Linked DNA regions of Homo sapiens: regions 1 and 3 are each linked to region 2. Evidence: fine-mapped expression QTL. A gene starts in region 2. Each other region holds a variant in brackets. All regions are shown on one strand. Distances are between the middles of the regions. Region 1 overlaps AGAP1 (ArfGAP with GTPase domain, ankyrin repeat and PH domain 1). Region 2 holds the start of AGAP1 (ArfGAP with GTPase domain, ankyrin repeat and PH domain 1). Region 3 overlaps AGAP1 (ArfGAP with GTPase domain, ankyrin repeat and PH domain 1).

Region 1 (10,052 bases), 86 kb after region 2:
AGTAAATCTCAGCCACTGGGAAGAGCCCTTTTTGGCAGTGTAGTTTCTCTTTTAATAGCTGTGATCAGATTATACCTTTAAATCTCTTTAAACACTTCCCACCACTGAAGTCTTTGGTTTCCTTGATTTGATAGTTTTTACCAGGCTGTTCAAAAAGTCAAGCAGTGTTCTTTTAGGTCCTTTTTGGTTCTGTGCGACAGTTAATGAATAGTCATGTGCATTTGACCCCTAAAAGGAAGGTCTTTTGCTTTTTAAAGAGACTGTATTAAGAGGAATAATGGACCAAGTACACCAGGAGGGAATGAACGAGAAAAATAAAAGAAAGAAAATCACACAAGACCAAATAACTAATTTTGAATATTTTCTGAGACCTTTGGTTTAGAATCTAAACTTTGTTGAGGCTGGGCGCAGTGGAGCACGCGTGTAATTCTAGCACTTAGGGAGGCCGAGGCAAATGGATCACTTGAGCTCAGGAGTTCGACACCAGCCTAGGCAACATGGCAAAGCCCTGACTCTTCCAAACATACAAAAATCAGCGAGGCATGGAGGCAGACACCTATGGTCCCAGGTACATGGGAGGCTGAGGTGGGATGATCGCTGGAGCTTGGGAAGTTGAGGGTGCAGTGAGCCACGATCGTACCACTGCACTCCAGCCTGGGTGACAGAGTGAGATCCTGTCTCGAAAAAACAAAAACAACAAACCAAAAAAAAAGGTGACATTGAGAATAAAGAGATGGTGGTTGGATTTGTGGCTATTTTTCCAGCTGCTCAATAGTTGTACAAAATGTAGCTTGATATGATGAGTGTTTCCAAAATTCCTAAATTACATGTCATGTTTGTTGATTATTTGTATATGTTTTAATGTGTATTAAAAAGACACCAAAGGTGTGAGTTCATAAATATTAATACTTAGGATAAACTTAAGATTTGAAAGAATTTAAAGTTGAAGAGAGTTGAAGTAGGTGATAGTTTAGGTGGTCTTTGAATGTGGCAGAAGCCACAAAGGTGGTGCATGAAGTTTGGGAAAAGCTGAGCCGAGGAAACTGGAAGGCTTTCTCCTTTAAGGACCAGTGTGATTCTAGGCTGTTGAATGATATCTTCAGATACCCGTTTGTCCTGTTGCTCTGCCTCCTCCGTGAGCTGTGCTCACGGGTGGCCAGGTGTTTGACACTAGTATCCAGAGACAAACTCAGACATGCGCCCTGGGCTCTACTCCTGGAACCTGGGAGAAAGGGCTGCCGTAGGGAAAGGTGTGAACGCACAGGTTTGCATGCCTAAAATTATAACACTTTTTTATTGCAAAGGTTCTTTTCAGCTTTTTTCTTTTCAAGTAAATGGAGATGTGTCTTTCTTCTGTTTCTGGTGTCCTTTTTCTTTCCGTAAAATAACCACCTCTTTACTGAGATTGGGGAGGGAAGTCTGTCTCCATTGAATTGTCTGCTGTCGACATCAGATAAGACATTCCCTTCTGTTCTGTTTTCAAAAGAAGATGATGTGAAAAAAAAGTGGCATTTTTATGAGACGTGTTGTCCCCTCACATAACTTCTTGGATACCTTTCCCTTGTCCTAGGGACCTAAGCCTCTCTGGGTGTCACTGTCCGTGCACAGCCTGTGATAAGCCGCTGTGTGGCAGAGACCAACTGTGGGTGATTTGTCGCTCCCCAGAGCCCGGTTGCAACAGGAGGAGCCACCAGGCTGGGAGGGCACCAGGCAGGAGGCTGGGTCCATACCTGGCGCAACCCTGGGCCTCAGGTTCCCCAGTGGCAAAGGTAGGATAGGGGCTTTGGTCGCCTCTGTGCTATGAGTCTTTGTCCAGTTTGTCAGTCACCATATTCGTTTTACTCTCCAGTCTTTTCTATAAAAGTGTTTGGGGGCCAGAAGTTGTTAACCTGGTTCACTAGAAGCTAATGCATTGATTATTTTTGTGTGTGTTGTACTCAGCACGTGCTTCTCAGTGCGCTGTGTCCTCATTTGCTGTTTCCCCTGAAGTTTGACGAGTATGGTATATTCTGGTCACCAGGCAGGTGGTGCTTGGGGAATATCTCCTCTCCGTGTGCTGGAAGCATTGCCTGATTTTAATGAGGTGACTCACTGCAGCTGGTTTTAAGAACTTTGTTGCAGGTATTGGTTGACTGCAGTGTTCCCAAGTGGTCGTGCTGTGCCCTAAAGGCTGCTAGAACCTCAGGGGCCGTTGAGGGCAGGTTCGAGTCCCGCAGGCAAGAAGGTGGAACTCTAGAGAGGAGGGGGATGCCTTGGCCTGGGCCCCCTCTGAGGGAGGACTGTCGCCCCTGCTGCTGGGAGCATCATTAGCTGCAGCTCCTCATGGAGAGATGCCCAGCGTAAGGGTACATCCTGTCAGACCCTCTTCCCGTGACTGTTCTTCCAGGGTGTGAAGGGCAGAAAGGTGGGGCCATCTGGACCCATCATGGGACAATTCTAATGGCCTCTCCATTGCTCCCTGTTGGGTTGGCGAGATGGCCTCAGGTTTGCCTGGCAGTTCAGCCTCTCTCTGGCCAGTTCTGCTTCTTCCCCTCCTTCCACAGGTATCCATCTTCCCTCCATACCCCAAATGCCAAACTCTACCTCTGCATCTTCACCAAGAAAAGCATTTCTGTTGTCCTGAAATATCAGGCCTTCCTGAACCCCCTTGTACCTCTGTCCAGTGGAAGTAGAATGCCAGCCACATACGTCATTTAAAGTTTTCTACTAGCTACATTAGAAAAAATAAAAGAAACAGATGAAATTAATTTTAATAAACTGTTTAATCCAACATATCCAAAATATTATCCTTTCATTGCAATTATCTGGAATTTGTGGACGAGGTTTGCTATAATCCTGTTTGGTACTGATGCTTTGGGTGGTGCTGTGTAATGTTCATTCATCGCACATTTCAATTCGGCCACATTTTAGTGCTCAGTAGCACCTGTGGCTGGAGCTACTGTATTGGGCACCACGGCCTTAGGGTTTTGATTAAAACCCCATTCTCTTGACCTTCTGCCCAAAGCCTTTGCCAGATGAGACACTGCCTCTCGCTGAATGCCTGCTTGGAGCAGAGTCCTGTGTTTGTTTGGAAATGATCGGAAGCTCCTGTGTCCCTGGTCGCTTGCTGGAGTCGGTGGGAGCTGAGAGTCCCTTGCTGCCCGGAGCATGGCTGTGTGGCTGCCTGACTACATGGTTCTTCCCCCGGTTATTTTTGTTTGGGCAGTTAACTCTGAGCATTCGGAACATTCGCCGAGTGGAACGTGTGTGTCGTCATCCCCTCGAAGGCTTGGCTGATTGAGCCAGTAAACAAAAAGTGCATTCAACACAGGCTTGTCTGCTGGCCTCCCCCGGGAGAGAGAGTAGGTTTGCTATTCCTGAAATGTAATCCCTCCTTCAGCGCTGCACAAAAGGCCCATGTCTGCTCGCTGGGACCTGATAGTTCGCCTTTGTACGGATGAAAAAAACCAAACACTGAGCCTGGTCTGAGCGGGGCTGTTTGTTGAGGCTCCTGATGCAGACAAGGGAGCAGTGTCTGCACAGGGGGTCTGGATCGCACCCGACACCATCCAGGTGCCTGCGTGTGCTGGTCCCGCCATCAGGACTTCCCCTCGTGAGGAGCTGGGTACCACTGTTATCCTGCCTGCTGGTCTGAGGGTCCGAGCGTGATTGGGAGCAGAGACAAGAGTTCCAGGGCGAGCCTCAGTTCTGGGACCACCATTGACCAGTAGAGCTATAAAGGACTTGGCCACCAAGGTTGGAGCTGAGCCCCCCATGTCATGAAACTGCCACTGTCAGAGCCAGCCTGAGCTCCACGGTGCCCGTCTCCTACCTGCACTGTGCCCCCACACCTTTGTTGACAAGGACCTGACCTCTCCTCAAACTACAACCTAAGAACCACAATGCCTGTTCCCCTTACCTGCCCCCAGGTGTCCTGGGAGAAGTCAGTGACATGATTAAGACCTTTAAAAATGATGGTAAGCATGTGCCAGTGTGAATGTACTTAGTGCCACTGAGCTGCACACTTAAAAGTGGGTAGAATGATGCATTTTGTGTGTATTTTGCCACAGTTTAAAAAATTACAGACTGGACGCAGTGGCTTATGCCACCCCAGCACTTTGGGAGGCTGAGGCAGGCGGATCACTTGAGGTCAGGAGTTTGAGACCAGCCTGGGCAACATGGTGAAACCTCGTCTCTACTAAAAATACAAAAAAATTAGCTGGATGTGGTGGTGTGCACCTGTAATCCCAGCTACTTGGGAGGCTGAGGCAGGAGAATTGCTTGAACCCAGGAGGCGGAGGTTGCAGTAAGCCGACATTGTGCCACTGCACTCCAGCCTGGGCAATACAGCGAGACTCAGTCTCAAAAAAAAAAAAAAAATTTTTTTTTTACAATAAGCTATTTAAATAAACATTTGTGTATAGCCCAATAGTTTTTCACTGTTGAGGGTCAAAATTTTACCTTTGTCTACCTATCTGCCTGTCCCTCTAGCTGTCAGTCACACAGACGGATATAGATATGTAATTTGAATTACTTCTGTTTCTTTCTCTTTGCTAGTCTAAGTCTTAGAAGAATTAAGGGTTTTCTTATTACTGGCTAAAGTTAAAAGGTACCCAGTTGAATCATCTTGGAAAGAAAACCAGGAAACCAAATTATCACCATGAAGCAGCCTTCCCCAGCTTGTGTCACAGTGGAGCGCTCATTTTTGTGGCTGGTTTACTGTCGTAAAACTTTCGTATAAGGGCGCACTGTGTCAGCCCCTGCCCACTGAGGGCTTCAGAAATGAAAGGCAGTTCTATTTATGCCCAGCTGGCTTCTGCAGAGCCGGGCTCAGTTTACCAGGCGACACTTTTGCTTTAATCCTTCCTGGTGTGACGTAACCTTTCACTGTCCTTCCCATGC[C/T]CTGAGGTCTCCAGCCTTTTTGTTAAAACAAAACAAACCTTATTTGGGCATGATCAATACAGCTGTGGGTTGCAATCCCAGGGGGCGACTTGGCTCTTTTGTTGTTGTCGTTAAAAAATATTGAGGCAAAATTTACATAACATAAAGTTAAGCATTTAAAAGTGAACACTTGGCCAGGCGTGGTGGCTCACACCTGTAATCCCAGCACTTTGGGAGGCCTAGGCGGGCAGATCACGAGGTCAGGAGATCGAGACCATCCTGGCTAACACAGTGAAACCCCGTCTCTACTAAAAATACAAAGAAATTAGCCGGGCGTGGTGGTGGGCACCTGTAGTCCCAGCTACTCGGGAGGCTGACACAGGAGAATGGCGTGAACCCAGGAGGAGGAGCTTGCAGTGAGTGGAGATGGCACCACTGCACTCCAGCCTGGGCAACAGAGCGAGACTCCATCTCAAAAAAAAAAAAAAAGTGAACACTTACTTAGCGTATGCACCACATGGTGTAACCACCCACCCGTCTAGTTCCAAAACAATTTCATCACCCCCGCCCAGGGGAAACCCCATGTTCTTCAGCAGTCATTGCCCATTTCCCCCTCTCCCTAGCACCTGACGACCGCCAGTCTTCTGTTTCTGTGGGTTTGCCCATTCTGGACATTTCATATAAACAGAACCATACAACATGTGGCCTTCTGTGACTGGGTTCTTTCCCTTAATATAATGTTTTTGAGATTCATCGAGGGTGGTAGCATGCATTGGTGCCTCATTTCTTTCTACAGCTGAATGATATTTCATTGTATGGAGGGACCACATTTTGTTTATTCATTCATCTGTTGATGGGCGTTTGTGTCCATCTTTTGGCTACAGGGAACCATGCAGCTATGAACGTGCGTGTACAGGGATTTGCTTGAGTTGCCATTTTCACCTCTTTGGAGTATATCCTTAGGAGCTGAGTGGTTGCTTGGAAAGGTAATTGTATTTGACTTTGAGAAGAACCGCCATACTGTTCTCCCCATCATTAGTGGTGAGAATGAAGACGTGCCGGCCGCTTACATTTTGTCGGGTTGATTTCTTCATTTTCTTGCATCTCCTTCACAGTGGCAGTGCTGGCTTTTCCCTCGGTGCTTGTTGGAGGCAGTGGGGGAGGGAGGGTTGGGGAGGGTGCGCTTTCTACTCCACCATTCTAGTGTCTTCTAGAGGTAGAGTCGAGTGTATCTGAGAGTGCTTCTCTCTTAGAATAAATGACATTAACATATGAAAAAACAGCTACTTGTGCCTGACTATGGGCATTTTCATGTACAGGAGTTCTTGAAGCTGAGTTTATTGAGAATGGTTTTGTTACCTGCTGATAGCTATCTTTTTGTGTTTAGTTCTTTTTGACTTCTTTGGCCTCTAATGTTTTGACAGTGGCACTTAGATGACAGTCAGCAATTGCAACAGTGAATGAAATCACACAGCTTGAGTTCAAGGTGGAAAGAGAAAAAAATCTAGAGAGGATGTTATCTGACCTGGCATGAGAGGTGATCATCCTGTCTCTGAGCAGTGGGTTCTTGCTCTCGACCTTAGGGTGTAATGTGGCCCTGCTCCTTGTATGGTGAATAACTTGTGACTGCTGTGTTTACCACATGGCTTGACAGTTTACAAAGCACTTTTGTGTATATTATTGCACACTCTGATCCTTACAGTAATCCCGTGAGGTGTGGAGTGGAGGCTTTTTAAGAAACAGAGACTGCTTTGGGAGGCATAGGTCGGTGGATCACCTGAGGTCAGGAGTTCGAGACTAGCCTGGCCAACATGGTGAAACCCCATCTCAAGCAAAAAAAAAAAAAAAAAAAAAAAAATGCCGGGCATGGTGGTAGGTGCCTGTAATCCCAGCTACTTGGGAGGCTGAGGCAGGAGAATCACTTGAACCTGGGAGGCAGAGGTTACAGTGAGCTGAGATCATGCCATTGCTCTCTAGCCTGGGTGACAAGAGCGAAACTCCGTCTCAAAAAAAAAAAAAGATGGAGGGTGAAAGAGATGGAGACTTGGAGGTTGCACACTGTTCAGTGGAGGTGCAGGACTTCCAGCTTGGTCTTTGTCCCCAGCTTTTTAAGAATTCAATCATGAAGAAGATTGTTTATATTGTTCTTTTTTTTTTTTTTTTAATGGATTGAGTGTGAAACTGGTGGAAATATATTCCAGGAGGCCATTTAAAAAGAAAATAGGCTGGGTACAGTGGCTCATGCCTGTAATCCCACACTTTGGGAGGCCAAAGCAGGCAGATTGCCTGAACTCAGGAGTTCAAGACCAGCCTGGGCAACGTGGTGAAATTCCGTCTCTGCTAAAATACAAAAAATTAGCCGGGTGTAGTGGTGCATGCCTGTAATCCCAGCTACTCAAGAGGCTGAGGCAGAGAATTGCTTGAACCCGGAAAGTGGAGGTTGCAGTGAGCCGAGATCGTGCTACTGCACTCCAGCCTGGGCAACAGAGCGAGATTCCATCTTCAAAAAAAAAGAAAGAAAGAAAATAACAAGGTTACCATGGAGATCCTGCAGTCACGGGGACATTCTCAAACATCACAATGATTGGTGTCAAAAATTGAAACCTGGAAGAAGAAAACTGGACTATGATTGTTGAATTAGCACCCGGGGAGGTTTTATTATTCTGTGTTCACCCCAGGAAATTCTTAAGGCCTGAGTGTTGATGTCCTTCAGCAACCCAACATATTAACGCAGTCTTTAGGAGACATGAAATGTTCCTTCCATCCAGGGAAGACGTGATTGCAGCAGGCAGGAGTTGATAGTGATGCTATGGGGCTGTCTGCTCTATACGAGGAGCAGAGACCCCTGGATCCTAGTGGTGGCCCCTGGTCACCAGATGTGAGCCCTGGAGCGCATGATTGTGGTTTTGACCCATTCTTGCCCCAGCTTGAGCCTGACCTTTGGCAGGTCCAGGAGTGTGCTGAGTCTTTCTACCCCGCTGCGTGGTGCTGCCTGCCGAGGTGGTGTGGCTCTTTGTGCTGGCATTTAGGGTGTCACTAAAGCCCAAGACCAGGATTGCTTGTCCTTTGCAGTGTGCTGGACAGGAGCCACACAGTGTAGAAGCGACTTGCCCTAAATGCCTCATTGAGAAGCATGGGTGTCCCCTTAGACATCATGGGAGCTCATTGCATTGATGAAGCCCTCTTGAGTCAGATCGTGGGGTTGGTTGGTCATGCGTGTAATTATGTGTTGAGGTTTGGTGCCTTGAGATTAAAGGGATGCCACATTTTGAGCTTCTCAGATATAAAAGAAGGATTCTTTGGGGGAGGACCTATAAATATTTCTTAAAAGTGTTTTACAACAAAAGCACGGAGTGTACTTCAGAAGGAAGGATTTAGCTGCTGGAGTGATGGCCGAAGGAGCCTGGGAGAAGTCAGAGAGAGGGGGCTCGTGGTCCTTCTTGGGCTCTCATTGCTGTTAGCAGGAGTTGGCACTTGAGTCCCACGTCCTAGCCTCCCGGCATCACAGCCTTATGCTGCATTTCCTAAAGTGCTTTCTAGCACTGACCGACTCCAGGAGGCAGCACTGGCAAGGATTTTGGTGAGCCTTTGATGGAGTGTGTTCCGGAATCGGGAGGAAGCTTGTAAGGCTGCTTTCCACTCATTTTATGTTGTTGGGATTTGGCTCGGAACCTGCCAAGGACCCCTGTGTGTTAAAGTTGAAATAGTTCCCTAGTAAACTGGCCACTTTCAGACCAGCTGCATTTTCTAGAATAAACTTCATTTGTCCTTGACTCATAAAGGGAAAAGCCAGAAGCCAGGGGCTCTGGGGCACCTCCAAGTGGGCCAGGGTCAGGTGTGGGTCCTCTGCCTGGGTTTTAATGTAAACTCAGGGTTTTAATGTAAGAACCTGTTTTGTTTGCTTTTGTTTTTAGACCAAGTCTCACTCTGTTACCCAGGCCAGAGTGCAGCAGCCATAAACATGTCTTACTGCGGCCTTGAACCTTGGTCTTAAATGATCCTCTTACTCAGCCTCTCATGTAACTCTGGGGTAACTCCAAGTGGGCCAGGGTCAGGTGCGGGTCCCCTGCCTGCGTTGGTCTCACTGCCATATAACCCCAGCCATGGTGATCTTACCAGAGAAACTCATTTGAACCTATGCGGCTGCTTCAGGCCGGTGGTTGTTGGCCTGATAGGAAGAGAGCATACTCAGCCTCATACTCAGCCTCTCGTGTAACTGGGACCACAAGCATGCACCACCATACCTGGCTAATTTTTTTTTTTTTTTTTTTTTGGTAAAGATAGGGTCTCAGAGGTTTGGTGTGGTGGCTCATGCCTGTAATCCCAGCACTTTGGGAGGCTGAGGCAGGTGGATCAGTTGAGGCCAGGAGTTCGAGACCAGTCTGGCTAACATGGTGAAACCCCATCTCTACTAAAAATACAAAAACTAGCTGGGTGTGGTGGTGTGCGCCTGTAGTCCCAGCTACTCGGGAGGCTGAGGCAGAATTGCCTGAACTCAGGAGGCAGAGGTTGCAGTGAGCCAAGATTGTACCACTGCACTCCAGCCTGGGTGATAAAATGAGATCATGTCTTAAAAAAAAAAAAAAAAAGATGGGGTCTCACTTTGCTGCCCAGGCTGGTCTTTGAACTCCTGGACTTAAATGATCCTCCTGCCTCGGCCCCCCAGAGTGCTGGGATTATGGGCATGAGCCACCACACCTGGCCAGGGCCTGTTTTTAATTGTTGAATTGCCCACATTGCATTATCAGGATTGAAAACATAGTAGTGGCACAGCCTCCTGGAGAGTGCAGATGTAGCTCATGGTACGCTTGGGGTTTCTGCAGAGCATGACATCAGGCTGTCTTCCAGCCTTGCCTCACTAAGAACTTGAAGCATGACCCTCAATAAACCACTTTTTTTTTTTTTTTTGCATGGAAATCTGTGAAGAAAGAAGGCCTTGGGAAAGCCTGTGTCCTGGCCTGTCATTGAACGTAATAATTACATTAACAAGTGAATGATTTAAGTTCTGCACTCTTTGTTCTTATAGGAACAAGGTTAAGGGACGACTGTGTTGTGGGTTGAAATGTGTCCCCCAAAATAGTATGTTCAAGTCCTAACCTTGGTAGCTGTGTGTGTGGCCATACTTGGAGATGGTCTTTGGCTGATGTAATTAGTTAAGATGAGGTCATACTAGATTGGAGTGGGTCCTGATC
Region 2 (10,052 bases):
GCTGGGACTACAGGCGCCCGCCACTACGCCCGGCTAATTTTTTGTATTTTTAGTAGAGACGGGGTTTCACCGTTTCAGCCGGGATGGTCTCGATCTCCTGACCTCGTGATCCGCCCGCCTCGGCCTCCCAAAGTGCTGGGATTACAGGCGTGAGCCACCGCGCCCGGCCTGATTTTTGTATTTTTAGTAGAGACAGGGTTTCACCACGTTGGCCAGGCTGGTCTTGAACTCCTGACCTCAGACGATCCACCCACCTCGCCCTCCCAAAGTGCTGGGATTATAGGTGCGAGCCACCGTGCCTGGCCTCTCACTTATTCTTTGTTTGCAGTCTCAGATTGGATTCAGAAATTGAACGCTAGAAGCAGTGTTTCTTCAAGAGATAATCCCCTGGAATGCAAGCTCACTAAAGGCAAGCTTCATCTTTCACCTCTGTATCCCTAGAACATATCACCCTGCCTAGGATACAGTAGATGATCAATACAGATTTGTTGAATGAATAAATAAGTGACAGAATAAATGAACAAATGAATGGGCTGATCATTCAAACCATCTTTGATATTTCTGGGACAGAAGACGTTCACTACTTTAAGGCTTGGCTTGCTCTCACAGTGGAGTTTTCACTCAGAGCTTATAAGTGCCTGGAAGGACCGTCTCACACACACACACACACACACACACACACACACACACACACACACACACGGCTAGAATTCTTGGCTCTATTCACAGAAGATAAATCTGCAGCACATTCCTGGTAAATGTCACTGGGTCCCATGTTGCTGGAGAAACTTCCATTTTAATTCAGCAAATCTTTATTAGGCACCTACTATGTGCCTGGCATGATGAGAGAACAGCTCTTACCATAGGAGAGATATTGTTGATTAATTAATTTATTGAACGTTTGTTGCATTATAATGCTCCAAGCCCTGTGCAAGAGAAATATGGTCCTTGTCTTCATGACAATTATAATTTAATGGGGAAGCTGTTTGTTTGCCAAACATTTATTGGGTAGCTACTATGTGTCAGCTACTGTTATAGACACTGGAATAGAATGGGGAGCAAAACAGACAAAAATTAATCCTGGCCCTTGTGGAGCTTATGTTTTAATGGGGGACACAAACCATACACAAGATAAATAACTAAAGTATATGGTGAGTTAGACGGGAATAAGTGCTAAGAAAAACATAAAGCAAGTGCATTAATCTCCCATTGCTGCTATAACAAATTAGCACAGATTTAGTGGCTTAAATGACAAAAATTTATTATCTTATAGTTCTGGAGGTCAGAAGTCCAAAAATGGGTCAATAGGGATGTGATCCTTCTGGAATCTCTAGGAGAGAATCTGTTTTCTTCCATTTTCCAGTTTGTAGAGGCAGCCCACATTCCCTGGCTGGTGGCCCCCTCCTGCATCTTCAAAGTCAGCCCAGCGGCATCTTCCAATCTCTCTCTCTCCCTTGCCTTCCTCTCCTCTCTCTCTCTCTTACACCTGTCATCATATCTCCTCTGATTCTGACCCTCCTGCCTTCCTCGTATAAGGCCTCCTGTGATTACACTGGGCCCACTCAGATAATCTGGGATAATATCTTCATCTCAAGGTCCTTAATTTAATCAGACCTGTAAAGTCCTTTGCCACTTAGACTAACATATCTACTTGTTTCAGGGATTAGGATGTGGGCATCTTAGGGGACCATTATTCTTTCTACTGTGGCAAGGAAGGGGGACATGAAGTGTTGGGGAACAGGGATGCCATTTTAGAGAAGATGTTAGGGAAAGTCGCATTGAGAAGGTGGCTTTGGAGCAAATACATAAGGAAACAAAAGTCCTGGTGAAGGGGTCAGGGAGACAGAGAAGCAGATGACAAGGGTGGGGGTGTGATGGGTATATTTAGGGGGCAACAAGGAGGCCAGTGTGGCCGAAGAGGAGAGAACAGGCTAGAAGTAGAGATGCTGTGGCGAGAGAGACAGTCATAGGCTGAATTATGTCCCCAAAATTCATATATTAAAGTCCTAACTCCCAGTACCCCAGAATATGACTATATTCAGAAATTGGACCTTGAAAGAGATGACTAAGCTAAGACGATGTCATTAGGAAGGGGTCTAATCCAATATGAATGGAGTTCTTCTAAGAAGGGGAGATGGGGACACAGACACACAGAGGAAAGACCCTGTGAGAACACAGTGAGAAGGCAGCATCCACAAGCCAAGGGGAAACCAACCCTGCAACAGCTTGATCTTGGCTCTTTGAGCCTCCTGCATTTTGAGAAAATGGATTTCTGTTAAAGCCATGCAGCCTGTGGAAGTTTTTTTTGTGTGTTTGTTTTGTTTTGTTTTTTTGAGAAGGAGTCTCCCTCTGTCACCCAGGCTGGAGTGCAGTGGCACGATCTTGGCTCACTGCAAGCTCCACCTCCACCTCTCGGGTTCACGCCATTCTCCTGCCTCAGCCTACCGAGTAGCTGGGACTACAGGCACCCGCCACTGCACCCGGCTGATTTTTTTGTATTTTTAGTAGAGACGGGGTTTCACCATGTTAGCCAGGATGATCTCGATCTCCTGACCTCGTGATCCGCCTGCCTCGGCCTCCCGAAGTGCTGGGATTACAGGCGTAAGACACCACGCCCGGCCTTTTTTTTTTTGAGATGGTCTTGCTCTGTCCTCCAGGCTAGAGTGCCGTGGTATGATCACAGCTTACTGCAACCTTGACCTCCTGGGCTCAAGCCATCCTCCCTGCACAGCCTCCGGAGTAGCTGGGACTAGAGGCTCACACCACTGTGCCTGGCTAATTGTTGTATTTTTTGTAGAGATGGGGTTTCACCATGTTGCCCAGGCTGGTCTCGAACTCCTGGGCTCAAGCAATCCTCCCAAAGTGTTGGATTATAGGCATGAGGCATCATGCCAGGCCTGTGGAAGGTTTTTATGGCAGCCCTTGCTGGGTAACACAGGTACACAGGTAGAGACACCAGGCGCCTTTGCTCTGGACTATATTCTCAAGGATGTTTGCAGAGCAAACAGCCTTGGAAGACAGAGATAATGTTTTCTGCCACAGTCAAGGGTAGACATGCTTACTGTCCATGATAAAAACAGTGTCTCCCTCTGGAGTGAAGGGCAGACACACTTACTGCCCGTATGAAAGATCTGAGCTCTCTAAGCTAAGGGTTAAAAACTTATAAAACTCGTATAGGGCAGCTGACTCCAAGTACAGGCTTCACCTGGGCCTCATGTTGCCCGTGGGAATTGGGTCTCAGTAAACTGGTGCATGAAAATGCTGATATTCCAGCTAATGCTACTATTATGAATAACAAAGTCCTTTGTTTCTGATCTGGGAGTCTCATGTCTTCTGCCAGCATCCATGAATTGTGGCAGGCTAACTTGTTAGCTTACAAGTAGGGGAATAGCTCAGCCCCTGAGCAGCTCTTGATAAGAGCTCATGCCTGTGGGGCGAGGCCAGATGGGAGTCATTGGAGGGTTTTGAGAAAAGGCATGACAAGTCCGGACGTAGGTTTTGTAAGTTTCACCAGGTAGGAAGCAGTGAGCTATTACAATTGTTAGATCTAGTGATGGTCCAGCTAGATGATCCTGACTTCAGCCGAGTGGTGAGAAGTCGTGGGATTCTGGATCCTCTGAAGGTGGAGCTGACACCATTTGGGATATGAGAGAATGATAAGCAAAAAGGACAGCACTGAATTTTTCGCCTAAGCAAATGGTGGCCTGGAGTTGCCGATGACTGGGATGGAGAAGATTTTTAGGAGATGTAGCCGGAAGGGATGGCAGGAGTTCAGCTGGCGACATGCTGGACTTAAACACCAGCTAGGCTTCAGGAAATGTTGAGGATGCAGGTGGATGTGAATTTGTTATTCAGGGGTGAGGTCACAGCTGGAGATACATATGAGCTTCATTAACCTGTGTATGATATTCAAAGCCATAAGACAGGGGCGATCACAGCAAATAGCAAAGAAAAGAGGCCTAACCATAAGCCCTGGGGCCCTCCATATTTAGAGGTTAGGGGAGTAGAAGAAAACCACAAAAGGGACAGTGAAGCCAGAAACACAGCAGGAAGCCCTGGTGAGCACTGGGAGAAGGGGTTTCCAGGAGCGCAAGTGATCAGCTGCTGCTGATAGGTCAGGTTTGGTGAGGCCACATGCCTGCCTCTTGGTTACTAGAGTTACTTATGCGTGGACAGCCCGAGGCATGGAGTGATGACCTGTGCCTAAGTGTCAAGGAGAAGACAAGCAGGTCCGGAATGGTAAAAATGTCAGCACATCTTTGGGAAGTTGTGGAGCCCAGCCAGTAAGCCAACACGGCTGGATACCAGGGTGCTTAGGCCATAGCAAACTGCATGTGAGCCGGTGAAGGCTCAGCAGGCTTTAAACGGGGATGCCGGCCCGGCTGGCTGAGTTTCAGAAAGACCACGCCGATGGCTGGGGGCAGGGACTCAGCCAGTGTCCTCAATCCAGGACCTTGTGGGACCGCCCGGCAGCCAGTGCTTCCGCAAATCTGAAGGGTCCCATTTGCCTCAAAGCGGCGAGACGAGCCTTCCAAGCGCTGCTGCAGTGCGGTCCCAGCTCCGCGGGGGGTCCCCGGGGATGACCTAAATCGGGGATTGCGGTGGGACAGACGGTCCAGGGGCTAAGGAACCCCGTGGAGCAGGCAGCGGCGCTCAGGAGGCAGCAGCTTGAGATCCACGGCTCGATTTTTAAAAATTGTAAGGGAGAAGGATGCCTCGAAAGCCTCTGTGGTATTTTGTCGCATCTCGCACCCCTGTCTAAACTTCAGTCCACTCGTGGAGTGTGGACCCCCACGCCGCATGGGCTCAGGAGGCGCTTCGCCTTTGGAAAGAAATCGCATGTATTAAGGGAAAGCACGTGTGCTACTTTGAGAAAGGAGGCAGAAAGTTACCAAACGCGGGAAGGGGAGGCTCGCCAACCAAGCGAGGCCGTGGGACACTGGCGAGTCGCAGAGGCTCCTGGAGCCAGCCGCTTGGAAACAAACAACAACGCGGCGGGCGAACTCCCGGGCAGCCTCCCCCGTGCCGGGGCGCGGGGGCCGCCGCGAGAACCCGGGCAGGAGCTGGCAGGCGCGGGGCCTGGCCGGCGGGAGGGTCCCGCACCCCGGCCCAGTGTGAACACCCCGCGCACCCCCCTGGCCCGGCCCGCCGGGGGCGCGGACTACAAGTCCCAGGAAGCCCAGAGGCAGGCGCGGGGCGGGGCCTGGCGCAATTCCCCGGGATCCGGCGCGCTGGGAAGCGCCGAGGAGGACGCAGCGCCGGCGGCCGGAGGGCGGCAAGCGCGCGGGCAGGCGGGGCGCGGGCGCGGGCGCGGGCGAGGGCGAAGGCGGGGGCGGGGCCGACGTGGGCCGGAGCCCTGCGTGCCAGGGAGGGGGCCGGCCGGGCAGGCGGCGGGCGGCGCTCGGAGCGGGCTCCGCGGCTTGCAAGGCGCCTGCGACTCGGTCCCAGGTCGGCGGGCGGCGCACGGCGGGCTCGCGCGGGGGCCCCGGCGCGCCGGGCGGCGCAGTACGCAGCGCGCGGACCCACGCCACGGCCAGGAGCCCAGAGCAGCGCGGCCACACTGCCCAGGGGTCGGCCCTCGGCCCCGGCGCTCGGAGCGCGGCGGCTGCCTGGGCTTTAATGGCTGCTCCGCGGAGCAGCGCCTAGGGCTGGAAGGCGGCTGCGGCTCAGGAAGTCACCCGAGCAAGCCTCCTTCGGGGCCGGCCGCACCCGCCGCGGCGCGCTCCATGGGGGCGCGCTCCCCCCGGGCGGCCCGCTGACCCGGGACGCCGGGGCCCGCTCGCTCGCCGGCCGCGCGTCCCGGCCATGAACTGAGCCCGCGGGCCAGCCCCGCGCCTGCTCCGCCCGCGCCTTTCTTCTCGCGCCTCCTCCGCCCGCCGCCGGCGGGCCCGGCTCCCCGGGGGCTGCGGCGCCCCGGGCTCGGCGGCCCGCGGGCCCCGGGGCGCGGGGCGGCGGCGGCGGGGGGCGCGCGGCTCCGGGCGCGGCGCCTGCACCATGAACTACCAGCAGCAGCTGGCCAACTCGGCTGCCATCCGGGCCGAGATCCAGCGCTTCGAGTCGGTCCACCCCAACATCTACTCCATCTACGAGCTGCTGGAGCGCGTGGAGGAGCCGGTGCTGCAGAACCAGATCCGGGAGCACGTCATCGCCATCGAAGGTGAGGGCCGGGCCGCCTTGGGGCCTCGGGAAGGCACGGACGCCCGCGGCGCGGCGGGGGTGTGCGCTGTGTGCGTGCGGGTGTCCACACACGCCGGCCGGGGCACGCGGCTGCTCCGCCGAGGGAGCACTGCGGCGCTGCTTGTCTTGCAAGGCCGGGCGAGCGTCGCCTGCGCCCCGCCGCGCCGCGAGCTCCGCCAGGAAGATAGATCGTCAGCGTTAATTTGATCGTGGACAATAGAGTCTCTCCTGCGGGAAAGTGGCTCGGTGCCTCCGCGTCCTGGGCTGCCGGAGCGTCCCGGCCCAGCAGACGCCTGGGGGCAGCCGGCGGGGTCGGCGCCACCCGACCCCTGACAGGTTACCAGGCCAGGCCTGGGCGTCTTGCTGGACGTTGAAGACGTGTTCTGAGAAGTGCTGCCGCTGGGGGCGAGGCCCGGGCCGGCGTGTTTGGGCGGTGCAGGGCTGCCCTCCTTAGTGTGTTTGCTTAATTCAGGGGTGCAGTTGAACTTAGTGGATGCCGAGAGCCAGCCCTAGCCGCGGGAGCATCGTGTCCAGGTGCCCCTGTGCAAACGCTGGAACCGGTAGTGTGCTTTGTACCAACCAAAAGTCCGGGGTTGGATTAGAGGAAGAACCCTACCAGGAGGGCAGGGCGTCCTCCAGCGGAAGGGTCTCGCTTTCATATGTCTGCAGTTGGAGGCCACTGAAGTGGAGGGTGCTGTGGTTTTAAGAGGGGCAGGATGCTTGGGCAGAATCCCCACCCGCTTCCCTCTGCATGTCAGGCAGGGCCATGGCCTTCCAGGAGAGCTACAGCAGCAGTCTGCCTTCCGGGGCTGTGCCCTCTGGATTTCTGGTGGCTCTCATTTCTCTGTTTCCAGGCTGCTGATTTATTTTCTTGCTTCATCCCTTTGGTCCGGCCAAGACTCACCTGGGGCACCAGGTGGCATGTGCGTGGACAGTGTGGAGTCATATCTTAGCCACAGTTGATCAGCACTTTCTCCCTTCTCAGCGCTGTTGGCCAGTGATGGTAAAAAGCCTGCAGAGTGGCTTGTCCATAATACAGACTGGCCGGTAAGACCTCTATTGAGGAACATTGAGAATGGCCCAAAGCCGGCAGGAATGTGCCTGAAAGCCTGGTGCTGGCGTTGCCCAGCCTCCTCCCTCTGTGAGGGAGAGGGTATCAGCCCACAGAGAGGCTTTGCCTTGGCACTATGTAGTCTGAACTACTAACCCCGAAGTGCTTTGGTTTGAAACTTGGCCAGTTAGGTGGAGAAAGTGGATGTTGTGTTGCTGAGCCCTTGGCATTTGGCAGCCCTGTAGACTTGAACCATGTCCCAGCCAGGCTGGATGACTGGCAGACTATACCCTTGGGGGACTTGTTAATTCCAGGGGAGGATCCGGGTGGAGCTCCAGCCTTATGGGGTCCTAGCCCTTTGTGTGTATCTGTCTCCCATGAGGTCACCTGGCTGCCTTGTTGGTGACTTAAGATGCTCTGTGGATTCCTCAAGAGATGGGCTCTGTCTGCCTCTGCATGACTCGTGATGAGTGGCGGTGGGACCTGGACCCATCTGCTGATGATCAGGTGGTGTTGCAGCAAGGTTCCTCCAGAGCTCCAGCTCTGCGTCTGTTACGGGAGCTGTGAAGGCTGCACGGTGCTCATTTCAGATGGTTCTTCCTGGCTCTCTGGCTGCATCCACAGAAGTCTGATGAAACACTGTGAAAGCCGGCGTCAGGTATTGAAGGCACCTGGCTGAGAGCCTCTTTTGCTGCATGAAGACCTCTGGCTGAGTGGGGTTCACAACACCTCGTTTTTATTTCCCATTCTTGAAGCTGAGCTCTGGGGCTCAAGCACTTCCAGCAAAGCAGTTTGACTTTCTAGCAAGAGGATGTGGTTGCATTTTCCTTTCTCCCTTAAAAGAAAAAAAAAATGCGTCGTTCCTAGATGATGGTTTTTTTTGACAGCACGATGCCTACCTTTGCGATTTGAGATTTTAGGCCCCTTCTTGGCCGGGATCCTTGTCATTTTTAATAAGGCTTAGAATCATTGGGTGAATCCTGTTTGGGACTGGGGTGATGCTGTTATTTTTCTCTTAGAAATAGGGATGTCTACATTATGTGGAGCTGTAGTTAATTTAGTGAGGCTTAAGAACCACTCAGACATGCTGCTGTTCTTTGCATGTTCTTCTGTTATCAATAATGATACCACTTTTCATTTCTGTAGAACTTTAACAGAAATATTTTTGCATGTATAGTCTCATTGTGTGGCTTCACCAACCCTGTGAGGGTGGGTGGGTAGCTTCCTCATCCTCATTTTATGGAGGAGCGGGTGGAGGTTCAGGGAGGGATAATGACCTCCTTAACATTTGACTGAGGTGGTTTGAAGTCTGATCTGAACCAAGGGATCATTTGAATGGAGTTTCTGTCTCCACACTGCATGTGGATGGCAGGAACCCAGTGCTGGCAACTAAGCCTGCGCTGGAACATCACAGTAACTGCAGAGGGCTCCCTGCAGGGGCAGAGAGCTGCCCCTGCCTGTGCGTGCACCTTGGAGGTTTTAAAGTCTAACTGTTTCCAATCAGGACAGCAGGTGCACATCATAACAAATGGCTCAAAAAGTCACTTGTCCCACCAAATAGAAAGCTGGCCACATTTTAGAAGATTTCCAGCTAGGGATTTTTTCCCCTTCCTCTGTATGTGCATACACAGAATTGGGGTCTGACTTCCCAAGCTTCTGGACTACCGTGATGTGGGCACTTCTTTTTTTGTTTTGAGACGGAGTCTCGCTCTGTCGCCCAGGCTGGAGTGCAGCGGCGCAATCTCGGCTCACTGCAGGCTCCGCCCCGGGTTCACGCCATTCTCCTGCCTCAGCCTCCCGAGTAGCTGGGACTACAGGCGCCCACCACCTCGCCTGGCTAATTTTTTCTGTTTTTTTAGTAGAGACGGGGTTTCATTGTGTTAGCCGGTATGGTCTCCGTCTCCTAACCTCGTGATCCACCCACCTTGGCCTCCCAAAGTGCTGGGATTACAGGTGTGAGCCACCGTGCCCGGCCGGGCACTTCTTAACGTTATGAAGAGCTTTTGAAGATAGGGTTTCTCTTGTTGGCACAAAATTCCCACATTTGGCTGCACCCTACTCAAAACTTCACTGTTTTCTGGCATCTTCAGGAATTTTTGCTGTTGGAGTGAGGTGCAGCCTTGTCCAGGGGAAGGATGTTTTGGCTAATGCTTATTTCAGAGCGCGTGGAGGTGGGTCTGGGTTGTAAAATCTCTTAACGATGGACTAAACATATTTTAGTTGAAAGGCCCACCAAGGCTCCCAAATAAAAACACATCCGTAATCCTGTTTGTAGGCATGGGATACAGGTGATTTTGCCCTCAGTCTTGTTTTAAAACACTAGCTTGTCAGAAGAGAACAGTTTTTTTCCCCCAATTTTTGTTTTGTACATTGAGAGGTTTATTCCCCCCTCCCTTCACCCCCAAATCACTAGAGTTTAAGGAAGCATTGCTGATTGTTCCAGATTTATCTGATCAGGTTTCTGGGATGTCCTATGGGGCATGGCATGCTGTGAAATGTAGCCACACAGCTGTGTCGTCTCTGGAGCCTCCGCAGCCACCATGCCCAGAAATGAGCCTGAGAGCCATCTCGCCTCCAGTCTGAACAGCGTGTGTTAGTTTCCCCTCTGGTTCTCCTTAGAAAAGTCCATCGGGGGTTGATGGCATTGAGGTAGATGAATTAACTGCCTTTCTTGTTCAATAAAGCTTGTTCTTCTTTCAAGGATAAAGCCTCTCTTAGCAGTCACACATCGTAATTCAGCTTGCCAGCAGCAGGACCGTGATGTGAGTGATAGCCCAGCCAGCTCATTCAGCCAGGCGGCCCGATTCCCAGGTTCCCACGCATC
Region 3 (10,052 bases), 260 kb after region 2:
TGGGAGTGGTGGAAGTCACTTGTAGGGTCCTCTCCCCTTCTGGTTTAAATCCATGGGGGCAGAGCCACCTGTCCCCCTGCTCTGGTGCCCAGGGGGTTGTCGGGGGCAGAGCAGGGCAGCCACACTCGGGCTCTCCAGAGAGTGCTGGAGCCGCTTCAAGGTGATGGAGGACTCGCCGCGCTCTGACCTTGAAGACCCACGGTGAAAGCAGTGGCTGCAGGACTGTTCCCGGGACTTCCTCCAAATGGGGCAATTTTCTATTACATGTTTAAATTAGTCTTCAGATGAAATTGTAGGGATTCTGTACATTCACTGTTCAACTCAGTTTCAAAGATGACATCAGTTCTCAAACTTCACATTTTCTTTCCTGGAGCAGTGAGGTTCCTTTCTAAGCCTGCCGTCTCTTCCCGCGCATCTCTGCCTCTCAGATACTTACCTGTTTTTCAGCACGTTGGTCCTAGTTACTGCTTCATGGCTTAGGTTTCTTCTCGCCTTATCCAGTGCCAATGCTGAAGAAGCGCAGGGTCCCCTGAGGATCAGCACAAAGTCGCTGGGGTCCCACAGCCCCTTCTTCCCTCCACTAACGTATATCTCGGGCACCTCCTGCTGCCTCTGTCGGGAGAATGTCCTGTGGGGAGTAAACCTCATTTCAAGCCGTGCTGGTGAACATGAGTGAGATGTTAGTGAGACTTGGAAGAACTGTGCAGGGAGGCCCTTAGAGCTCTTCTGAGAGGTGCACCCTAATGGAGCAAGGTCACTGTCGGCCGCTGCGCTGCCGAGGCCCCTGTGAATGTTGAAGTAAAGCGTCGTAGATGAAGGGTCCCCAGGCCCGTGCATGAGGCCAGCTGCCTGTTTTCATAAATAGACTTTTCTTCTTTTTTTTGGAGACAGAGTCTAGCTCTTTGCCCAGGCTGGAGTGCAATGGCGTGATGGCAGCTCACTGCAACCTCTGCCTCCCAGGTTCAGGCAAATCTTGTGCCTCAGCCTCCCCAGTAGCTGGAATTACAGGTACACGCTGCCACACCTGGCTAATTTTTTGCATTTTAGTAGAGATGGGATTTTCACCATGTTGCCCAAGTTGGTCTCAAACTCCTGAGCCCAGGCAATCTGCCCACCTTGGCCTCCCAAAGTGCTAGGATTATAGGCATGAGCCACCGCGCCTGGCTGTAAATAGACTTTTCATGACGCAGAGCCACGCTTTGTGTCGATGGGCTGCAGCGGGTTTGGGCCCCTCTCCAGCTGTGACAGCAGAGATGAGGGTCTTTGCGGCCTGAGAAGCCCAGAATATTCACTCTCTGGCCCCGTGCAGAGAGCTTGCCGGTCCCCGATGCAGGATATCAGGGACTCAGTTGTCTGGATAAGTTTAGTTTCCACAGTGACTCCTTTGCTTTTGTATTTATCACGGTTAACATACATGAGTTTTCCATAAATTGATGAGTGCTTCTTATAAAAATAATGTTGTCAATTAATGAATACTGGGGGTTGTCAGGATGATGCTGCCTTCCTGCCAAACAGCCTTTGTACGTTCTGGCTGCTCTAACAAGACCCAGTGGCTTATACAACAGACTTTTACTTGTCCTACTTACGGAGGATGGGAGTCCAGGGCCAGGTGCTGGTGGGTGTGGTGTCTGCTGAGGGCCATCCTCCTAGTGGGATATGTGTTTGCATAGTGGAGAACAGAGGACACAAGCCCTCGCCAGTCCCTTCCCATAAAGGCACTTAACCCATCACAGGGTTCCACCCTTGTGATCAGTCACCTGGCAGAGGCCCCACCTCTTATTCCCCTGGGGGTCAGGATTTCAGTATAAGAATTTGGGTTGAGTTCCATACCACACCCAGCACGTTCAAGGCAGAGGACAGGCAGCCACCCACCTCTGTGTTGGAAGCATTTCGTTTTCTTCAGGTTGGGGGTGGCAAGAGGAGAATAAGGACTGATATTTCTAAATATTAGTTTAAAATATTCAGAAAAAGCGTTTCCGTTACTGTGACAGCTCATGTCGCACCTCCCCAGGTGATGCTGTGATGAGTGTCCGTTTTCATGGGCACAGGAGATTTCCGTTCCAGTTTCGTATTATAGAAATAATACACTCTCATTATGTATTCGGATTTTGGCTGGGCGCAGTGGCTCAGGCCTGTAATCCCAACACTTTGGGAGGCTGAGGAGGGCAGATCACCTGAGGTCCATAGTTCGAGACCAGCCTGGCCACCATGGCGAAATCCCATCTCTACTAAAATTGCAAAAAATTAGCCGGGCATGGTGGCAGGCACCTGTAATCCCAGCTACTCAGGAAGCCAAGGCAGGAGAATCGCTTGAACCTGGGAGGCGGAGGTTGCAGTCAGCTGAGATTGCACAATTGCGCTCCATCCTGGGTGACAGAGCGAGACTCTGTCTCAAAAAAAAAAAAAAGTAGGATTTTATGGAATTTGAAAAGCAAATACCTGTGAAGCTACAACTTCCGTGACTATTGCGATTTTTTTGTCCTTAAAATATTTTCATATGAAGATAACATTTTTAAAATAAAATCAGTTACTTTGTATATTTTATATCATAGTTATATGGTATATGGTTTCTTATTTGTATATGTATTTTCATGTAAATCACAAACACTCTCATTGTTAGTGAGAAAAGTAGTTGCTGAGTAGGAGCTTTATTCAGTACTTAGCAATCCTTAATAACAAAGTAAAAATCCTCAAGGAAAGTTAAACATTGTAAGGTTTATATAAAGTTGAAGAAATTGAGGCTCAGAGAAATGACATAGCTTGACCCAAAGGGACACAGCCTGGACTGGATCCCCCATCTTGGGACCTGAGAGCCTCGACTTAACCACAGCACCGGGACATTTTGTCATTAAAATGGAAGCAAATCAGGTCCTGGGGCCTTAAGAACACACCAGCTTTGCCCACAGGTCTGGGGAGGGCCTTGCAGGGGATGCACCCAGCCAGCAGGGCCCCTGCCTGCTCGCCGACTCAGTTTATTCACATTTCTTGATAACTCTCTGGCTTCTTTTTTGCCCTAGGGCTTACTTTGTTTATTTACTTTTTATACCTGTATATGGTAGAAAGAAAACATAAAGGAAAAGCGTGTAATTTCTACATAATGTTTGGCTTGTAAATAAAAAAAAAAAAAAAATCCAGCTGCTTCCATTGCCCTGCGGAGGCCATGTTCCTGATTGGCTCTGTACCGAGGTTCATTTAAAAGGCCAGGGACCTCATTCTTTCTTCTCCAACATTTGACTTCTTAGTGTCTTGTAACAAAAGGACATTGTAAAAATGAATGGAGAAACCTTGCATTCACTTTTTGTTCGCTTGTGTGGTCCTGTTTACTTTGCTTTCATGGAGTTTCCAGATGGCTACTGGCAAGTGGCTGTAGGTGTTGGGAAGCAGCCTAGCAGGCTGGTTCATCCACCCAGTCACTCGTTCATCTGAGCACCAGCTTCCCACACACTGTGCGTCTGGTCAGGGGCTAGAGGCAGATTGGGAAGCGCAGGCAGGGTCCCTTCCTCCGTGAAGTTAAGGTCCACTAGGGAGGGTAAACATCAAACGGTCACCCAGAAACATGACCTTGTGTCTTGCTCAGGGGTGGAAAAGAAGTGTGGCAGCCCAGGCTGCTTTCTGGGGGTGGAGCGTTCTCGCTCCTGCTCACAGGCGAGTTTGTGTGGCTTGCGGGGCTGGGTGAGCTGGTTCCACAAGATGGTTTCTGCTTGACCTGGGCAGCTGAGCCGGACGTGGGCTGTGGGTACCCAACCGTTTGGATTCTCAGCAGAGCCCTGGGGAAGGGAGGCACTGGGGGCTGGGGCGGGCTGGATGTGCGGACTTGGCAGCTGGGGGCTGCAGGTCCGTCTGCAGGGACTGCACAGGGCTCTCGTTCCTAGATTGCTTCACAGCCAGCGGCTCTGTGCCTGTCAGATTCTGCATGGCTCTGTTTGCCTCTTCCTGCAACTGGGAAATAACCTATATACAAGTTTTTCTATTTTTAAAGTTAAAATGGTGATTTCAGTGTTTGGCATTAAATTTTTCAAAAGTCCCTGTTGATTTGTTCTCCTAGGGCCTGGATACATGAACATGAAGGATTACAGAAAAATAAAGTTCATTCCATGTAGACATTGTTCCTCTGGTCCTACGATCCCTCCCCTTCCCCTTCCCTTTTTTCGAGGCAGGGTCTCTGTCACCCAGGTTGGAGTGCAGTGGCACGATCTAGACTCACTACAGCCTCTACCTCCCGGGTTCAAGCAGTTCTCCTGCCTCTGCCTCCTGAGTAGCTGGGATTACAGGTGTGCGCCATCATGCCCAGCTACTTTTTGGCTATTTAGTAGAGACTGGTTTTTGCCATGTTGGCTAGGCTGGTCTTGAAATCCTGGCCTCAAGTGATCCTCTGGCCTCGGCCTTCCAAAGTGCTGGGATTGCAGGCATGACACACTGCACCCAGCTTGCGATTCTTCTTTAAAGAGACATTTTTCCCACTTCATATGAAGAAGCAGCTTTCTGAGTGGCAGCAAGCAGCTCTTCTGGACAGACAGAGTGTGTGTCTGACATGGGACTGTAGTCAGGTCTCCGGAAGGTCAGGAAGGGTATAGTTTTGGTGATGGGATTTTTCAGCCTACATGCTGAAAGGTCACCTAAAATAGTTATAACTTAGTGACAAAAATAAATCCTCCCTTCAGAAGGCCAAGTCATGTTCAAGGTGGTAGCAAGCTGTGTATAGGTAGCAACAGGGCCCCTTTGAGCATTACACGTGCACCTTGGGAGGAAGAGAGTGGAGAGCGGGCTCTGCCTGTATATTCTTGGAGATGGTGCATTCAGCACTGTCGTTCCCTGCAGTTAGGTTTTGGAGAGTGTAAATTTTAGCCTGTCTTCAAATGCTTTGAGTTTCTCGTCTTCCTGAGTAGCGTGTTCGGAGCTTTCTCTGCTGCGGGTGGCGGTGCCACAGAGGAACACAGGGGCCTGTGTTGTGGCATCTGTTCAATCGGGGAGACAGGATCAGGGTTTTTTTGTTGGTTTTGACATTCTTGAGCCAATGCACCCTAACTTTTATTGGGCATAGTTTATGATTGTTAAATTATGGTGTCTTTGTGGTAGCTGTATGGCATGTGGGATTTTAAAGGCCCCTGATTCCTAAAGAAAGAGGGGTTTCCCTTTCATAGGCAATCAGGAGTACAACCTGATAGTGGTACAAAGAATTGTTTTCATTTCTTCTCCAAGCAGCTCGATGCCCTTTCTCTCTTCACTCCCCCTCTCCTAGAATGAGCTGATAAAGATGTACGTGAGTGGTCCACAGTGTGGTTTTATGCATGGATTGTTTATTTGCATCCCAGCA[T/C]GTTTTGTATACAGCAGGGGTCCCCAGTCAGGCTGCACAGGAGGTGAGCAGCTTGCAAGTGAGCATTACTCCCCGAGCTCCGCCTCCTGTCGGATCAGCAGCAGCCTTAGATTCTCCTAGGAGCACGAGCCCTGTTGTGAACTGTGCATGCGTGAGATCTAGGTTACGCATTCCTTAGGAGACTCTAATGCCTGACGAGCTGAGGTGGAACCGTTTCATCCCAAAACCATCCCCATCCCCCACCTGCCCCCCAACCCCTGATCCTCAGAAAAATTGTCTTCCATGAAACCAGTCCTTGGTGCCAAAAAGGTTGGGGACTGCTGCTATATAGAATTTAATATTCTTGCATGCATTTTCTGAACCTTCTAGTCACTTGTTAAATCCCAGTTCAGAACATCACATTAGATATATGATCTGCACTGTGCTAGGACGTGCTCCCCACCAAAACGTCAGCGTCTTAAGCTTGTATTCATATGACCATAGGAAAACCTACATGCAGAACTTTGATAGTAGTTGTTAGACCAGGTCAAGATCCATGTCAAAGAGATAAATTACAAATTATCATCTCTCTGCTTAACGGTCTCCAGGGCCAGTTTGGTGATCTCACATAGACTTCTGTCCTAGAACAGATCTGCATTATTGTGGAGGGAGAGACAGTAGGTTCTAGGTGTATGGGAAAGCTGGGCAGTGGCACTGGAAGGGCGCTGTGTGCCAGGTGCTAGCGCTCCCGGGCCCTGTGTGCCAGGTGCTAGTGCTCCCGGGCTCTGTGTGCCAGGTGCTAGTGTGGCCACAGCCTTGTGGCTTATTAGGGCTTCCTCTGTTCACACGCTGTGTACATCGTCCTGGTGGATGGGTGTTTATCTGGTAGAGTAGTTCCTGGTCTAGGCAGATCCATGTCAGTCCTTTGACCTCATTGCCCCTGGCTTTTTATGTTTGTGCTGCAGTTAACATTCTGGAAAGCACTTTTATAGAAGCCATTCCATTTGTCTTTTGTCCCTTCCCAGTAACGGCTCACCTGGGCCTATCTAACCCATGCCGAGAGCCCGAGCTGGGAGAGGTTGCATGATTTTTACCAAGGTTGTGCGGGAAGTCAGGGAGCCTCGGTGTGCTCTTGATGCTTTGCTTCCAGAGATTGAAATCCTGGTGTGTGCAAAGAACCCCATCTCACATTAAATGGCTGCAGCTGCCTGGTCCTAATTACAGGAGTGTCCAGAACCAGGGGAGCTATGTTAATGAGTCCGTTTGTGCAACCTAATTGCACGCACTAGAGCATCTGTGAATGTAAGCAGTCTTCTGGGCCTCTTCTCCTGGGTCCTGCATCATCTTGGACCATTTTGTTTTGCTCACACCACAGTCCTTGTGCTGTTAAAGGATGTATCAGTTAAGCCTATTCCATTCTTTCCTGAAATCAGCTTAATTTTCATTGTCGGGGTGGCCTGTTTTATGATTTGTTTTTGTTGCTATTTTTTTCTCCTTTATTACAGATTAGATTGGAACTAGTGTGTGTGTGCATGCGTGCATGTGTGTGTGTATATGTGTGTTAGCGAGGGAATACTTCAAAAAATAAGATTTTTTACACTTGAAAGCAAGCCATGTATATGTGTACATTAGGCACTTGATATATGTTGAAAAGGTGGATTAATGGGTCATTAATTGTCCATTTTTTAATCACTTGTAGTAATGACTAATAATTATGCAACAATTTAACGGCTTATGATGTAGGATAGTGGATCTTATTAGGCCCAGTTTACAGCTGGGACTACATTGTTGGAAATGCTGCCTTCCCAGAGGTACATGGTGCAGCTGGTGTCAGGCGAGGCCATCATTTCCCGTTTCTACCTGTGGTCTTGGCTGTGCACCTGTACTCATCACTGTCCCCGTCTCTACACCCTCACCCCCTCCACACATTGAAAGTCTTATTTCTAAGACTTCCTGGGACAGATGGGTGGTAGATGTGTATTGGGACAGTATGAAAGAGGTTCAGCTGCTTAAATTACACTTCATTAAGGGGGTTCATATTTGAACATTTTCTGAGAACAAAGATGACATGAAGAAAGTGACCTCTGTAAGGCTCTGGCAGCACTTATGCGGTACCAATACAAATGGGGGTTGGGGGCTGAGCAGAAAACATTCTTCAAGAGTTAAATGATCAAGTCACGTAAGGCGTGTTGTTTTTGTTTTGTTTTGAGACAATGTCTCACTGTCACACAAGCTGGAGTGCAGTGACACAATCTTGGTTCACTGCAACCTCTGCCTTCTGGGCTCAAGCCGTCCTCCCGCCCCAGCCTCCCAAGTTGCTGGGATTACAGGTGCGTGCCAGCACACCCAGCTAGTTTTTGTATTTTTAGTAGAAATGGGGTTTTGCCATGTTGCCCAGCCTAGTCTCGAACTCCTGAGCTCAAAGCGATCCGACCGCCTCAGCCTCCCAAAGTGCTGGGATTACAGGCATGAGCCATGGCACCCGGTCATATAAGGGGGTTTGATGCTGGTTTGGGAGACATTCTGGTGTCGTTAGCCCTAGGGTTGTTGATGTCATTCTTTTTTTTTTTTTTTTTTTTTTGAGATGGAGTCTCGCTCTGTCACCCAGGCTGGACTGCAGTGGTGTGATCTCAGCTCACTGCAAGCTCCACCTCCTGGGTTCACACCATTCTCCTGCTTCAGCCTCCCAAGTAGCTGGGACTACAGGCGCCTGCCACCACGCCCGGCTAATTTTTTTGTATTTTTAGTAGAGACGGGCTTTCACCGTGTTAGCCAGGATGGTCTTGATCTCCTGACCTCGTGATCCGCCCGCCTTGGCCTCCCAAAGTGCTGGGATTACAGGCGTGAGCCACCGCGCCCGGCCCTGGCAGCTTCACATGTAGGGCCATCCAGTGCATGTGAGAATCTGCAGATGGTCTCCAGAAGAGCCACATCTGACCTGCCTAGTAGCTTATCTCCCAGCGAATGGGAGAGGTGCAGACCTGCTGTTGACTGTAAGGAGACTTGATTCAGCCTGTTGGTGGGGGCGCACATGTGAGGAAGAAGCCTTGGTGGGTTTGTGTGGGTCTTTCTCTTATGCCATATCCCTGGTTTATATTTGGATGGGAAAATACATAAATGTTTGATGGTGATCATTTTTATGAAACATGACATTGTCAACTCCTTTCTTCATATGCATTTTCGAATTCAGTTCTTAACCAAAGAAGCTCTTTCTACAACAGGGTTAAATTATAAACTGAAATAGCAAATTAATACCAAAACTAAAATAAAGCTTTTTGTATAGTAAACCATACATTCAGAGGTTTAAAAAAATCCAACAAAATGAAAAATACTTTTGAGTTACTATTTTTAGAAAAAAATTAGTTTGGGTTGAAAAATTCTTACCCTCATGAAGCTATAAAAGCACATGTTTTACTGATGAGAGAAGCTTCTGGCACATCAACTGAGACAAAAATCTTCCATATTCACTCGGTAAATACAAATACAGAAGATGGGCTGGGCGCAGAGGTTCACAGCTGTAATCTAAGCACTTTGGGAGGCTGAGGCAGGCGAATTACCTGAGGTCAAGAGTTTGAGACCAGCCTGGCCAACATGCCGAAACCCCCCTCTCTAAAAATACAAAAATTAGCCAGGCATGGTGGCGTGTGCCTGTAGTCCCGGCTACTCGGGAGGCTGAGGAGGGAGAATCTCTTGAACCCGGGAGGCGGAGGTTGCAGTGAGCTGAGATCACGCCACTGCACTCCAGCCTGGGCGACAGAGCGAGACTCCGTCTCAAAAAACAAAACCAAAAACAAAATAAATACAAATGTGTAAGATAGAATTCGTTATGAAGCTACACCAGACATTTTCAGGAGTAATTTGAGAATGTGCTTGAGGTGATTATCCTTAAATCATCCAAGTGTTTTTGAATATTATTTCAATTATTTCATCTTAGAAGTATGAAATCAGCTTGTTTCTTGTTTAGAGTTGCCCTTTCTTTTTATTATTATTTCTTAATTGAGACAGGATCTCGATCTGTCACACAGGCTGGAGTACAGTGATGCCATCATAGCTCACTGCAGTTTCAGACTCTTGGGCTCAAGCCATCCTCCTACCTCAGTCTCCTGAGTAGCTAGCGCTACTGGTGCATGCCACCATGCCCAGGTCATTTTTCAAAATTTTTGTAGAGATGAGGGTCTCGATGTATTGCCAAATCCAGTCTCCAGCTCCTGGTCTCAAGTGATCCTCCTGTCTCAGCCTTCCAAAGTGTGATGGGATTATAGGCGTTAGCCACCACTCCCAGCAGCCCAACTTTTAAAGGATTCTCTCTCAGTCTATCGCTTGATTTGCTTAACACCAGCCATTTAATATGAAAATGTTTAGGTGGGGGAGGGAATATCTTAATTATCATTGTGCTCCATACGCTACAGATGGCACCTGCTGGCCTTAGCAATATGGGGTCAAGTATGAAACATGATAGAGTGACACCCAAGGAACCTATAAGGAAAGGAATTTTGATTCTTTCAGAAATAACAGGAAGAAATTATCTTAAAATCTTAAGGTTGATGCTGCAAACAACCAGAGACAATAAATAAATTGTTATTTAGTGATGTTGCAGAATATTGTGTTAATAGAGCCTGTGATCTCTTCTGGCAATTTCTTACCCTAAGTCTGGGATTTTTCCTGCTGTGCTTCTCTTACTAGAAACGTTAAGTGTGCACAGATGCTCATACGTGTGCAGAGAAATGCCTGAATTAACTCTCACACTGCCAACATTAGA

What was found. PIP is the estimated chance that this variant, and not a neighbour inherited with it, causes the effect.
Region 1: its variant is the best candidate, but not a certain one, in a credible set for the expression of AGAP1 in lung (TOPMed, PIP 0.57).
Region 3: its variant is the best candidate, but not a certain one, in a credible set for the expression of AGAP1 in skeletal muscle (GTEx, PIP 0.82).

The regions. Positions count from the first base shown.
Region 1 is chr2:235,574,442-235,584,493 of GRCh38, forward strand. The region is part of intron 1 of AGAP1 (ArfGAP with GTPase domain, ankyrin repeat and PH domain 1); the gene reads left to right. Among named protein-coding and RNA genes, the nearest start is that of TNRC17, 62 kb to the left of the region's middle. The variant C/T (reference allele first, on the strand shown) is at 4,882.
Region 2 is chr2:235,488,693-235,498,744 of GRCh38, forward strand. AGAP1 (ArfGAP with GTPase domain, ankyrin repeat and PH domain 1) reads left to right here and starts at 5,351. Exons shown (of 18, transcript NM_001037131.3): 1 at 5,351-6,157. The coding sequence starts at 5,995. RefSeq lists an enhancer at 6,605-7,478.
Region 3 is chr2:235,751,313-235,761,364 of GRCh38, forward strand. The region is part of intron 6 of AGAP1 (ArfGAP with GTPase domain, ankyrin repeat and PH domain 1); the gene reads left to right. The region is part of intron 3 of LOC105373942 (a long non-coding RNA gene); the gene reads right to left. Among named protein-coding and RNA genes, the nearest start is that of TNRC17, 240 kb to the left of the region's middle. The variant T/C (reference allele first, on the strand shown) is at 5,315.